2 separate regions of the Homo sapiens genome follow, and region 1 is linked to region 2. Evidence: fine-mapped expression QTL. A gene starts in region 2. The other region holds a variant in brackets. All regions are shown on one strand. Distances are between the middles of the regions.

Evidence for each region. PIP is the estimated chance that this variant, and not a neighbour inherited with it, causes the effect. A credible set is the group of variants that fine-mapping cannot tell apart.
Region 1: its variant is the best candidate, but not a certain one, in a credible set for the expression of SLC25A1 in whole blood (INTERVAL, PIP 0.66).

The regions. Positions count from the first base shown.
Region 1 is chr22:19,210,343-19,215,714 of GRCh38, forward strand. CLTCL1 (clathrin heavy chain like 1) reads right to left here. Exons shown (of 33, transcript NM_007098.4): 20 at 1-167. Among named protein-coding and RNA genes, the nearest start is that of SLC25A1, 34 kb to the left of the region's middle. The variant GAAAGAAAGAAAGA/G (reference allele first, on the strand shown) is at 2,309.
Region 2 is chr22:19,176,470-19,181,777 of GRCh38, forward strand. SLC25A1 (solute carrier family 25 member 1) reads right to left here and starts at 2,267. Exons shown (of 9, transcript NM_005984.5): 1 at 2,111-2,267; 2 at 1,664-1,771; 3 at 1,473-1,572; 4 at 1,258-1,396; 5 at 651-735; 6 at 377-481; 7 at 109-224; 8 at 1-25. The coding sequence starts at 2,204. It overlaps CLTCL1 (clathrin heavy chain like 1), which reads right to left. Exons shown (of 33, transcript NM_007098.4): 31 at 4,262-4,337; 32 at 3,730-3,769; 33 at 3,004-3,500. The coding sequence ends at 3,750. RefSeq lists silencers at 1,484-2,563, 2,764-2,863 and an enhancer at 1,565-2,312.

The DNA of each region.
Region 1 (5,372 bases), 34 kb after region 2:
TCATATCAAACTTGTGGAAAACGGTGAAGGCCTCCTCATACAGTGCGCTGCTGACAGCGATGCTCGCGATGTCCAGTGCGTCATAGTTGTCCAGGCGGCTGATGTACTCCATGACCCGTGTGCGGTCTGCCTTGATGGCAGTCAGGATCAACAGATTCTGTAGATTCCTGAGGAGAGAGGGTGGTCAGCACGGCATCCCAGGAACGAAGGCTGCACAAACCATTTTTTGGCAGGTCAGGCATCCCCAGACCCCCAGTTTTTTTAAAAAAGTAATTAATATACACACACATAACTGCTAAGTAAATACAACAGAGTATTTGTGAAGTATTTGGGATCTAAAAAGAAACAGTATAGCAAAGTCTTGGGAAAGCACAGGTAAGAGAATCAGAATGTGCCAATCAAACCACTGGGAGGGCTGCTGTGGCTTTTTAGAGCCCAGCCTCTGGATCCTGCTGTAGAGGTACCTATTTTCCTACCTGTGCTTTCTTTGTGATTCATTATAGCTTTATCACATCTACTGTATTTCTAAGCAATATAGGCAGCTTTGCATTTTTTTTTAACTTTTTAAAAATTTTGAGACGGGGTCTTGCTATGTTGCCCAGCTGGTCTCAAACTCCTGGCCTCAAGTGATCCTCCCACCTTGCCCCCACAAAGTGCTGGGATTACAGGTGTGAGCCACCACACCAGGTCACTTTGCATTTCTTGAACTTTCCTTTGCTTTAATTATAATAGATGCATTCTTGCAAAACTTTATACAATTCAAAAATGTGGAAAAAAAATCAGTGTAACACACCACATATCAATAATCTAAAAAAGAAATACTACATCTTTATCAAATGATCAGAAAAAGCATCTGACAAAATCTAACACCTATTAATGAGAAAAACTCTCAACTAGAAATAGAAGGAAACTTCCTCAATCTGAGAAAGTACATCTACAAAAAGCCCACTGTTAACATCATAAGTAACAGAGTCTGGACACTTTCCCCGAGGATCAGGAACAAGGCAGGGATGTCCACTCTCCACACTTCTATTTGTGCTGGAGGTTCTGGTTAAGGCATTTAGGCAACAAAAGAAACAAAAAGTTTCTTTTCTATAATGAATCGCAAAGAAAGCACAGGCAGCACTAGATTAGGAAGAAATAAAACTGTCCCCGGTGTCTCACGCCTGTAATCCCAGCACTTTGGGAGGCTGAGGCGGGTGGATCACAAGGTCAGGATATCAAGACCATCCTGGCTAACACGGTAAAGCCCGTCTCTACTAAAAATATAAAAAATTAGCTGGGCGTGGTGGCAGGCGCCTGTAGTCCCAGCTACTGGGGAGGCTGAAGCAGGAGAATGGCACGAACCCAGGAGGCAGAGGTTGCAGTGAGCTGAGATTGCGCCACTGCACTCCAGCCTGGGCGACAGAGCAAGATTGCATCTCAAAAAAAAAAAAAAAAACAAAAACAAAACTGTCCCAATTTGCAGCCAACATGATTGATTAAAAAAAACTGAAGAAATCTACAAAAAAAAAAAAATCCAATAAATGAGTTTAGCAAGGTTGTAGAATACAAGGTCAACATACAAAAATCAATTGTATTTCTATATACTGACAATGTTTTTCAATGAACAACTGTAAACAAAAAATCTATTTAAAATACTTCCAAAAATATGAAATAAGTATAAATCTAATAAAATCTACATATGACCTATATGCCAAAAACTATAAACTGCTGATGAAAGAAATCAAAGATCTAAATAAATGGAGAGACATATCACTTTCATAGAATCAACATAGTAAAGATATCAATTCTCCCTAAATTGGTCCATAGATTTCATGCAGTTCCAGTTCCAGCAGATTTTCTTGTACATATAGACAAGCTAATTCTGAAATTTATATAGATAGGCAAAGGAACTACAATAGCTAAAACAATTTTGAAAAAGAATAAAGTTGAGCCCAGGTATAGTGGCTGACACCTGTAATCCCAGCACTTTGGGAGGCCAAGGTGGGAGGAGTGCTTGAACCTCAGGGTTTGAGACTAGCCTGGGCAATATGGCAAGACCCTGTCTCTACCAAAAAAAAAAAAAAAAACAACTAGCCAGGCATGATGGTGCACACCTGCAGCTACTCAGAAGGCTGAGATGGGAGGACTGCTTCAGCCTAGGAGGTTGGGGCTGCAGTGAGCCGTGTTCATGCCACAGCACTCCAGCCTGGGTGACAGAGGGAGACCCTATTGAAAGAAAGAGAAAGAAAGAAAGAAAGAGAAAGAAAGAAAGAAAGGAAGGAAGGAAGGAAAGAAAGAGAAAGAAAGAAAGAGAAAGAAAAAA[GAAAGAAAGAAAGA/G]AAAGAAAGAAAGAAAGAACAAAGGTGGAAGAATTACACTATCTGGCCAATTGATTTTTGACAGAGATGCAAGAGCAATTCCATGGAGAAAGAGTATTTTTAACAAATAATGCTGGAATAAACTGGACATTCATATGCAAAAAGCTGAACCTCACCCTAAACTTCACACTTTATTGGATAATGAATCTAAATATAAAATGAAAAAGAATGAAACTTTTAGAAGGAAATAACAGAAAATCTCTGTGACCTGGGAGTATTAACAGAGTTCTTGTTTTAACACCAAAGCACAGTCCATAAAAGAAAAGTTTATGAATTGGACTTTATCAAAATTATAACTTTTGTTCTGTTAATGACACTATTAAGAAAATAAAAGAAAATCTACAGAATGAGAAAATATATGGAAATCACATATCCAACAAAGGACTTGTATCCAGAATATACAAAGAACTCTGAAAACTCAACAAAAAACCAAACAACCCAATTAAAACACAGGCAACAGATTTCAAGAGACACTTCACCAAAGAGGATCTACGGATGGTAACTGAGCACATAAAAAGTTGTTCATCATCATTAGCCACTAGGGCAATGCAAATTGAAACCACAATGGCACACTGCTATACATTTATGAGACTGGCTAAGATAAAAAAATACCAATATACCAAGTGCTGCTAAAGATGAAGAGTGACTGGAACTCTCACATATTGCTGGTGGGAATGCAAAATGACACAGCCATTCTGGAAAACAATAGTGAGGCGGTTTCTTAAACAGTACATATACCATGTGATTGGGTATGTTTAAACAAAAATCTGGACACAAATGTTCACAGCAGATGTATTCATAATAACCTCAAACTGAAAACCACCCAAACGTACTTTGATGGGTGAAGAGATCCTGTGGTACATTCGTACAACAGAATATCATTCAGTGACAAAAAAGAATGTAAGGCTGATGCGATGCACTCACCAAGTTGGATGAATCTCAAAGGCATCATCACGCTGGGTGAAAGAAGCCTGTCACAGAGGAGTCTATACCACGTGACTCCATTTGCATGACATTCTTGAAAATGCAAAACTAGTGTGGCGGGGTGGTAGCCAGGGTTGGGGGTTGAGGTTTGGGGGAATGTATAATATACACGGTAGCTAGCACAAGGGAATGTTAAAGGGTGATGGAATTGTTTGTATCCCGACTGTGGTGATTCTACAGATCTACACTTGTGTTAAAATTCCTAGCACTGCATTCCCCATCCCCTTCCAGAAGGTCATTTTTACTGTATGGTGGTTTTATAAAAAAGAATTTTAAAGTTGGGTGCTAAGGGTCATCCATGTACAGTGTTCATTTCTACTGCTATCTGGTATTCCACTGTATGACTGTACTACAGCCTACTTATTGATGGTTATCTGGATCGCTCTTAGAGCTTTGTCTTGAGTATCCCTGCACATCTCCTCATACAAATAAGCTGAGTTCCTTTAGGGCTCATAAGGAAGAGAGGAAATTGCTGGCTGTGTGCATCTTTTTTCACCAAACTGTTTCCAAATGTAACGCACATTCCCAGCAGGGGCACGTCAGAGGTCCAGCTGTTCAACATCCTCATCAGCACTGATTAGGAGAGTGGGGTTCCTGCTGCTCTGGCAGGAGTAACAAAGCATCGGATGATGCACTGTGGCCTCACTCTGTGCCTCCTTGGTGGCTGATGAGGCTGAATTCACAAGCTGCCCTTCCTCTCACCGGAGGGTGTGCTCAAGCTCTCTGCTTGGTTTCTCATTGGGTTGCTTGTGTTTGTCTTTTATTACAACTTTTCCCTACTAATTTTTTGTTGGTTGTGTTGCAAATATCTTCCCCGCATTTGTAGCTTCTCATTTGTCCATCTTCTTTACGATAAAGTGCTTAAGTTTAATACAGTCTTATTGGTTTTTCACTAAAGGTTTATTTATGGTTTCTGGTTTCTGTGACTGGCTTAAGAATTTATTAGGTCATAAGTATATTCTTCCAAGTATATACTCTAAAAATAATATATTTTGCTTTTTTTTTTTTTTTTGAGATGGAGTCTCGCTCTGTCACCCAGGCTAGAGTATAGTGGTGCCATCTCGGCTCACTGCAACCTCCACCTCCCAGACTCAAGCGATTCTCCCGCCTCAGCCTCCCGAGTAGCTGGGATTACAGGCACCTGCCATCATGCCTGGCTGAATTTTTATTTTTAGTAGAGACAGGGTTTCACCCATGCTGGCTAGGCTGGTCTCAAACTCCTGGCCTCCCAAAGTGCTGGGATTACAGGCGTGAGCCACTACGCCCAGCCAAGGCTATTTTTACCTACGCATAAAACTGTCTGGTGAAATCATCAATGAAAGAAGAGCACGAACTTGAGGTTACCTGCATGTTTGAGAAGCAAGTGTTTAAGAAGACAGCAGAGCTACAGCCACCTGTAAGTGCCTGGAAGTACACACAAACTAACAACTATCAAAGGAGGTTGATCAGACAGCAAGACAGAATATCGTAGCCACCTCAGGCACCTTAATCCTGGCATCCTGTCATTAGTCAGGGTTTATGATTCCATTAAATATAATTTCACATTCCATATGCCATTACCATATAGCATCTCCAAGTTTAAAAACACACACACAAATTCCTCTCTATAATACTACAGCCCTTGATAGCCTTTCTGGCCTACAAAATAAATCTCATAACTAAATCTTTACAGCTGCACTTATGATGTGAGTTGATTAAAATCTGACACAGAATCTCTGATGGTGAATTTTGAAGTGGAGAGGAACCCCAGGTGGCTGGCCCATGCGGAAGCACGCACTCTTACCTCTATGGTGCCTGCCCATGCAAAAGAAGCACGCGCTCCCACCTCTATAGTGCTGGTCCATGCCGAAACACACACTCCCACCTCTATACTGCCGGTCCGTGTGGAAGCGTGCACTCTCACCTCTATAGTGCCGGTCCATCGGAAGCACGCACTCGCACCTCTATAGTGCCGGGCCTGTGCTGCTGCCCCTGCCACAGCTCCTGCTCATCTGGCTTCTACATTATACTTCGGGCAAGTCTTCCCTG
Region 2 (5,308 bases):
TCCGGTATTTGTGCGCCTCCAGGCCCTATGGGGGACATCAGCAGGCAGGGGCTCAGCAGCTAGCTCTGGCCTGGTCCCCCCTTCCCCTCCCCTTCCCGGCCCCACCACCTGCATCCGGGTCTTAATCACATCCAGAGGAGTGTTTCCAAAGACACTGGCTGCGCCTGCAATAGCTCCGAAGACCCCAGTGATCAGAGGGTTCATGGGCTTGTTGGGGTTGTCCCCTGGATATAGGAGGGGTGAGGTGGGTCAGAGGGTGCCGGGAGGGGCCTGGATCAGCACTTCAAAAGGTGGGTGCCCGCCACCCAGGGGTGGCCCCAAGGAGAGGAGAGGAGCTGGCCATGTGCAGAGATGGGGCCCTGTGATGCAGACACACCTCGGTACCAGTTGCGCAGGGAGGTCATGACGAAGAAGCGGATGGCCTGGTTCGAGCCCTGCTTCAGGACAGTGGCTGTGAGGCCCTGGTACGTCCCCTTCAGCCCTGCGGGAAGGCAGGCACGGGGTTACCCTGCAGCCTCTCAGGCCCCGGTTGGGAATTGGTGTGTGTGGGGGGTGGGTGTTGCACAAAGCCCAAGGCAGGATGGGAGGTGCAGGCCCTTCCCACCCTGGCCCAGGTCCCTGAGCCCTATCAGGAAGGTCGAGTGGCTCACCTTGTTCCCGCACAATCTCCCTAACCCCGTGGAAGAATCCTCTGTACTTGGGGTTTGGGGAGGTCTGGTCGTGGATGAACTTCACCTGAGAGAGAGAAGCAAAGGCGCAGGTTCTCGGCTGCCACCTGGGTGGGTCCTGGCTAGCTGGCAGGCCCAGGGCCCATCCAGGGTGGAGGGAACTGGGAACTCTTCCCCAGGAAGCAGTGCAGCCAAGGCCGCCCTGGGCTGCCCACACGGACCATGCCCCGGGACACAGGGCAGCCCACACGGACCATGCTCTGGGACACAGGGCAGCCCTGTGAGCAGCCTCTCCCTTTATGTTTGCTGCTCTTTTCCAGTTTTGGCAGTGAAGGTGTCATTTTGTTTTCTGCTTTATAAAAGTATTTTTTAAAGACTTTAAGGCTGCCTTTAGCATAGACTCAGCCTCCACGGGTGGCCCTTCGTGGCAGGCGTCCTGCCCCAGGGCCCCGCGGTCACCCCGCCGGCCTTCCCTGGCGTCCAGGAGACCCTCCCCAGCTTGCCGGTTGCCCCGGGAGCACCGGGCCAGCGGGGCCGCCCGTCTCCGTACTCCCTGCGTGTCCGGGGTCCTCGCCAGGACCTTCCCCACCTTGATGGTCTCCATGGGGCACACGACCACCACGGCCTCGGCCACGCCAGCGCCCAGGCCGCACAGCAGCCCACGCGTGCTGTCCAGCCGTCCCTGGGCATCCCGCATGTGGTTGCTGAGGAACTCGAACATTCCAAACCTGGAGGCGGGAGGCGGGTGAGAGGGGCTGCCGCGGCCGAGCCCCCCTCCCGCAGCAGCCACCGGCCGGGCCTCACCTGACGGCCGCCTTGGGGATGGAACCGTAGAGCAGGGAGCTAAGGCCGCGGTACAGGCCCAGGACGCCATGGCTGCGAACCGTCTGCCGCACGCAGTCCCCTGGGGGAGGGGGCGGTCAGGACCCCACGGCCCTCGGTGCCGCCGCCCTGGGTACCCGCCCCCCGCGGCGCCGCGGCCTCCCCCTCCTCACCGATGCCCCGGTACCGCGGCGGGTGCGAGCGCTCGTCCAGCTGCAGCTGCGTCTTCACGTACTCGGTGGGGAAGGTGATGCAGATCTCGATGCCACCCGCCAGGCCGCCTGCAGGGACCGGGAACCCGCTCCTGAGACTCCCGCCCGGCCGCTGGCGCTCGGGCCCCTCCCCCGTCCCGGACTTCGGTCGGCGCGGCCGCCGCGCCAGTGCCGCGGGGAACATAGGCTGGGGCCCCACGCCCCCATGCCCTCACCCCGTTGTCCCGGCGAGGCGCAGGGGGTGACAGACGGGAGGCGGGCGAGTCCCAGCGCGCCGGGTGGGGACCAGGACCGCGCCTCCACGACTCCCCAGCCCACGGCCCAACCCGGAAGTGGGGCGGGGCCTCAGCGTCCCGGGCCCACCCAGAAGCGCGGCGGGAGAGGGGTCCGCGTCCCGGAGGGGCCCACCTGCCAGGATCGCCTTCCCCGGGTGCGTCAGCTTGGCCTTCCCGGACGCGGGCGCGGCGGCCGCCAGAGCGCGCGGGGCGCGGGGCGCGGGCATGGCGGGCGGGAGGCGGGGCGCCCTGTGGCGGCTTCGGGTCCGAGACTCCAGAACTCCGCGCTCGGTCCGCGGTGGCGGCGGCGGCCGGTTATGGTCCCAGGGGCGGGGCGGCCGCGTCAGCTCCAGGTCCCGCCCCGCGTGGTCCGAGCCAGGCCCCGCCCCCAGCCCGCCCCGTGCGGGCCGGGAAACTGAGGCCTGGGCGGGGCGCGCCGAGGCAGGCGTAGGGGCGGGGCCAAAGCGCAGCCAATGGCCGAGGCCGAGTCCCTGGGCGACCGCGAGCGGCGGGACGGGGGCGGGGCTGCGGGAGGCGGAGCCGTGGCCCAGCTCCGAGCAGTGGGTCAAGGTGCACTGTGTGCCGCGCCGCGGGATAGCGGGCCTCGGGTCTGCGCGACTGTCGAGAGCGGCGGGATCCCCAGGGATCCCGGAGGCCAGGGGCACACCCTCCCCGAAAACACGTGGGGCTAGCCCAGTCCCAGAGGAACTCTAACGTTTCAAACCTGGAGGCGGGAGGCGGGAGGCCGGTGAGAAGGGGCTACGCCGCCGGGCCCCCCTCCCGCAGCAGCCACGGGCCGGGCCTCACCTGCCGGTTCCCACCCACACCTTTCCCGGTTGTAGTTTCTGCGCTCAGCGAACAAGGTCAGGAAAGACCACAAATGCAAGCGGCTGTATTCTCCTAGGCAGCTTGTCTGGGCAACGGAGGTCCCACACCCCAAAGAGGACCCAGCAAATCTTTAATGGACTGCGGGGCCTAGGAAACTGGCCCGTCCCTCCTACCCATACCAGCACCAAGCAGAGCACCTTTGCCTGGATAAACCGACTTTAATATTTATGATTGCCAAGAGGCTGAGAGTCCTTTTATGAGGTCCGGTACCTCCAAACAAGACGTGTTCATGTAGTCTTCAAACTGGCCTGGAGGGGGCAGCTCCAGCCAGTCGGAGGCGCCCAGGAGGAAGGCCTGGCTCCAGCAGGAGGGCCCACAGTCCAGTCTCTGTTGTCGGCTAAAGCTGGTCTTGCGCCGTCAGCCTCTACCCTGGCCTCCCCAGGCTCTGGGATGGCTCAGAGGTTGCCGTCATTGGGTTTCAGCAAAAATAAATATTGTCCAGGTGTCCCTGCCTCCCATTGCGTCCCCTGTGCTGCTGGAGTGACATGCTCCTTGGAGAAGTTAGTAACTCTGCAGGTAGGGTGGGTGGTGACAACGCCCACTACACGCGGAAGTTGTACATTGGAGGCTGGCGAAGTTGGGAGCAGAGGCATATCCATAGGGGAAGCTGGCAGGGGCTGGGCCCACGGCAGGGCCTGCAGAGGGGGAAGCCCACAATGAGCAGAGCTCTTCCTGCCCATGGGGGTCCTCTCCTGGCTGCCCCTGAGTAGCCCGGGGCCCAGGGAGCAGGGTCTATAGGACCAGCCCTTACCACCCAGACGCTGAGGCCCCAAGAGAGCAGGCATCCAGAGGCAAGGAGCGTGGGGTCAGCCAGAGAACCTGGCCTGGCTAGAGGATAAGCTAGTCTCCAAATGGGACACTTACTTAGTGCAATCAGCTGGGTCTCATTCATGCCCATCAAAATCTAAAAAAACCAGAATGACATTAATGGTGGAAGGACACACTCAGCCGGACGCTGGAGACCCGCCGGCGTGCTGCACACTCACACCACACCCTCAGGCCTGTGTTTGCCCCACAGTGTCCAAGCACCCCACAGCCTCTCCAGTCTGCTCGACAGCCAGGCTGCCCTGGGCAGGTTCTCAGGTGCAAAGCCCCTCCCAGCACACACCAGCAGCAGCCTTGCTGTCCAGGGGCCAGGCCCAGCAGGACACAGCAGTAGTTCACAGCTAGGCAGGCACCCCTATCAGAAGGCAGGCATCCTTACAGCAGGGAGGACAGCGGCCGTGCCAACATTCCTGGGCGTACACTTCTCCACACCCAGTAGCCACTGGGATCCTTCCAGCCCCCACCCATCTATTCCCATCCCCATCCAAAGCCCAGCCAGGTAAGGGCAGTGGGACTTTGACTCCCTCCCTGCTCCCTCCCCAGGGGGTTGGGGGCTACAGGTGCCACCTACCAAACACGAGAGGGGCAGGCTCTGTCACATGCTCCTCTTGCTTGCGCAGACTCTCCAAGGCATCCAGTTTGTCCACCTGCAAGGAGGCAAAAGCACGTGAGCACCCGCTTGACAGAGTGCAGTCCGGCCTCTAGGTGAAAGTGGAGTGGAAGGTCAGGACACAGGGCCTCCAGGAGAATGACAGTGGAGGAGGTGCACATGGGCAGATGTGGAGTGGCTCAGCCCACACCCCATGCACTTTTAGAATGCAGCAAGGCATGGAGAGGTGAAGCCTCGGTAGCTGGGCTGAGATGGAACGCCAGGTGGGGCCCCCAGAGCTTCCCAGTGGGCACTGGGGCAGTCAGTTGTTACAGGCTGTGCATGTGGCCTGCTTATGGGGGGCCAAGTCCTCCTCTGGATACAGGGACACTGCCACTTACCGACCTGCAGGGCTGGGGCCATGTGCAGGGAACACTGTCTGCTTCTGGCTCTGGCCAGTCTAGTTTGCCCGCCCCTCCAAACCAGCAGAGAGATCATGTGGCTCTCAGAGACAAGTCACCTGGCACCTAGACACTTCACCTGAGAAGCACTGAGGACAAACTGCCTCCTCACTCTTCCCTGAGGCTTCACCAGGCACTGACCCCACCCACTGCCAGAGAGCGAGGCGGCAGCACTGCACTAGAGGGGCGGCAGCAACTGTGCAGCTAGGATCCCCTCACAAACACACTGAGTAAGAAAGAGAAATAAGAATGTGCCCCCCATGAGCTGGGGTCTGGGGGGGGCTGAGAAATGAGGAGGAAGCAGGGGGCACACTTGCTGACACCTAGGGTGAGGGCTGAGCTAGGCCTGTACCCTCCCTACAATGGGAGAGCGCTGGGGGCGTCTCAGAGGGATGGCCCTCAAGCTTCCCAGATGAGCCACGAGGCCCCAGGCCCAGCTGTCCACCAGGAAAGGACTGTGCTTCTTGTCCGCGCCCTCATTCTCCCAGCACTGCTGTGTGGTGTCAGCTGAGCACCAGCTCAAGCTGACAATCAGCTCACACCCCCATGCCACTGACTGGGAAACCCC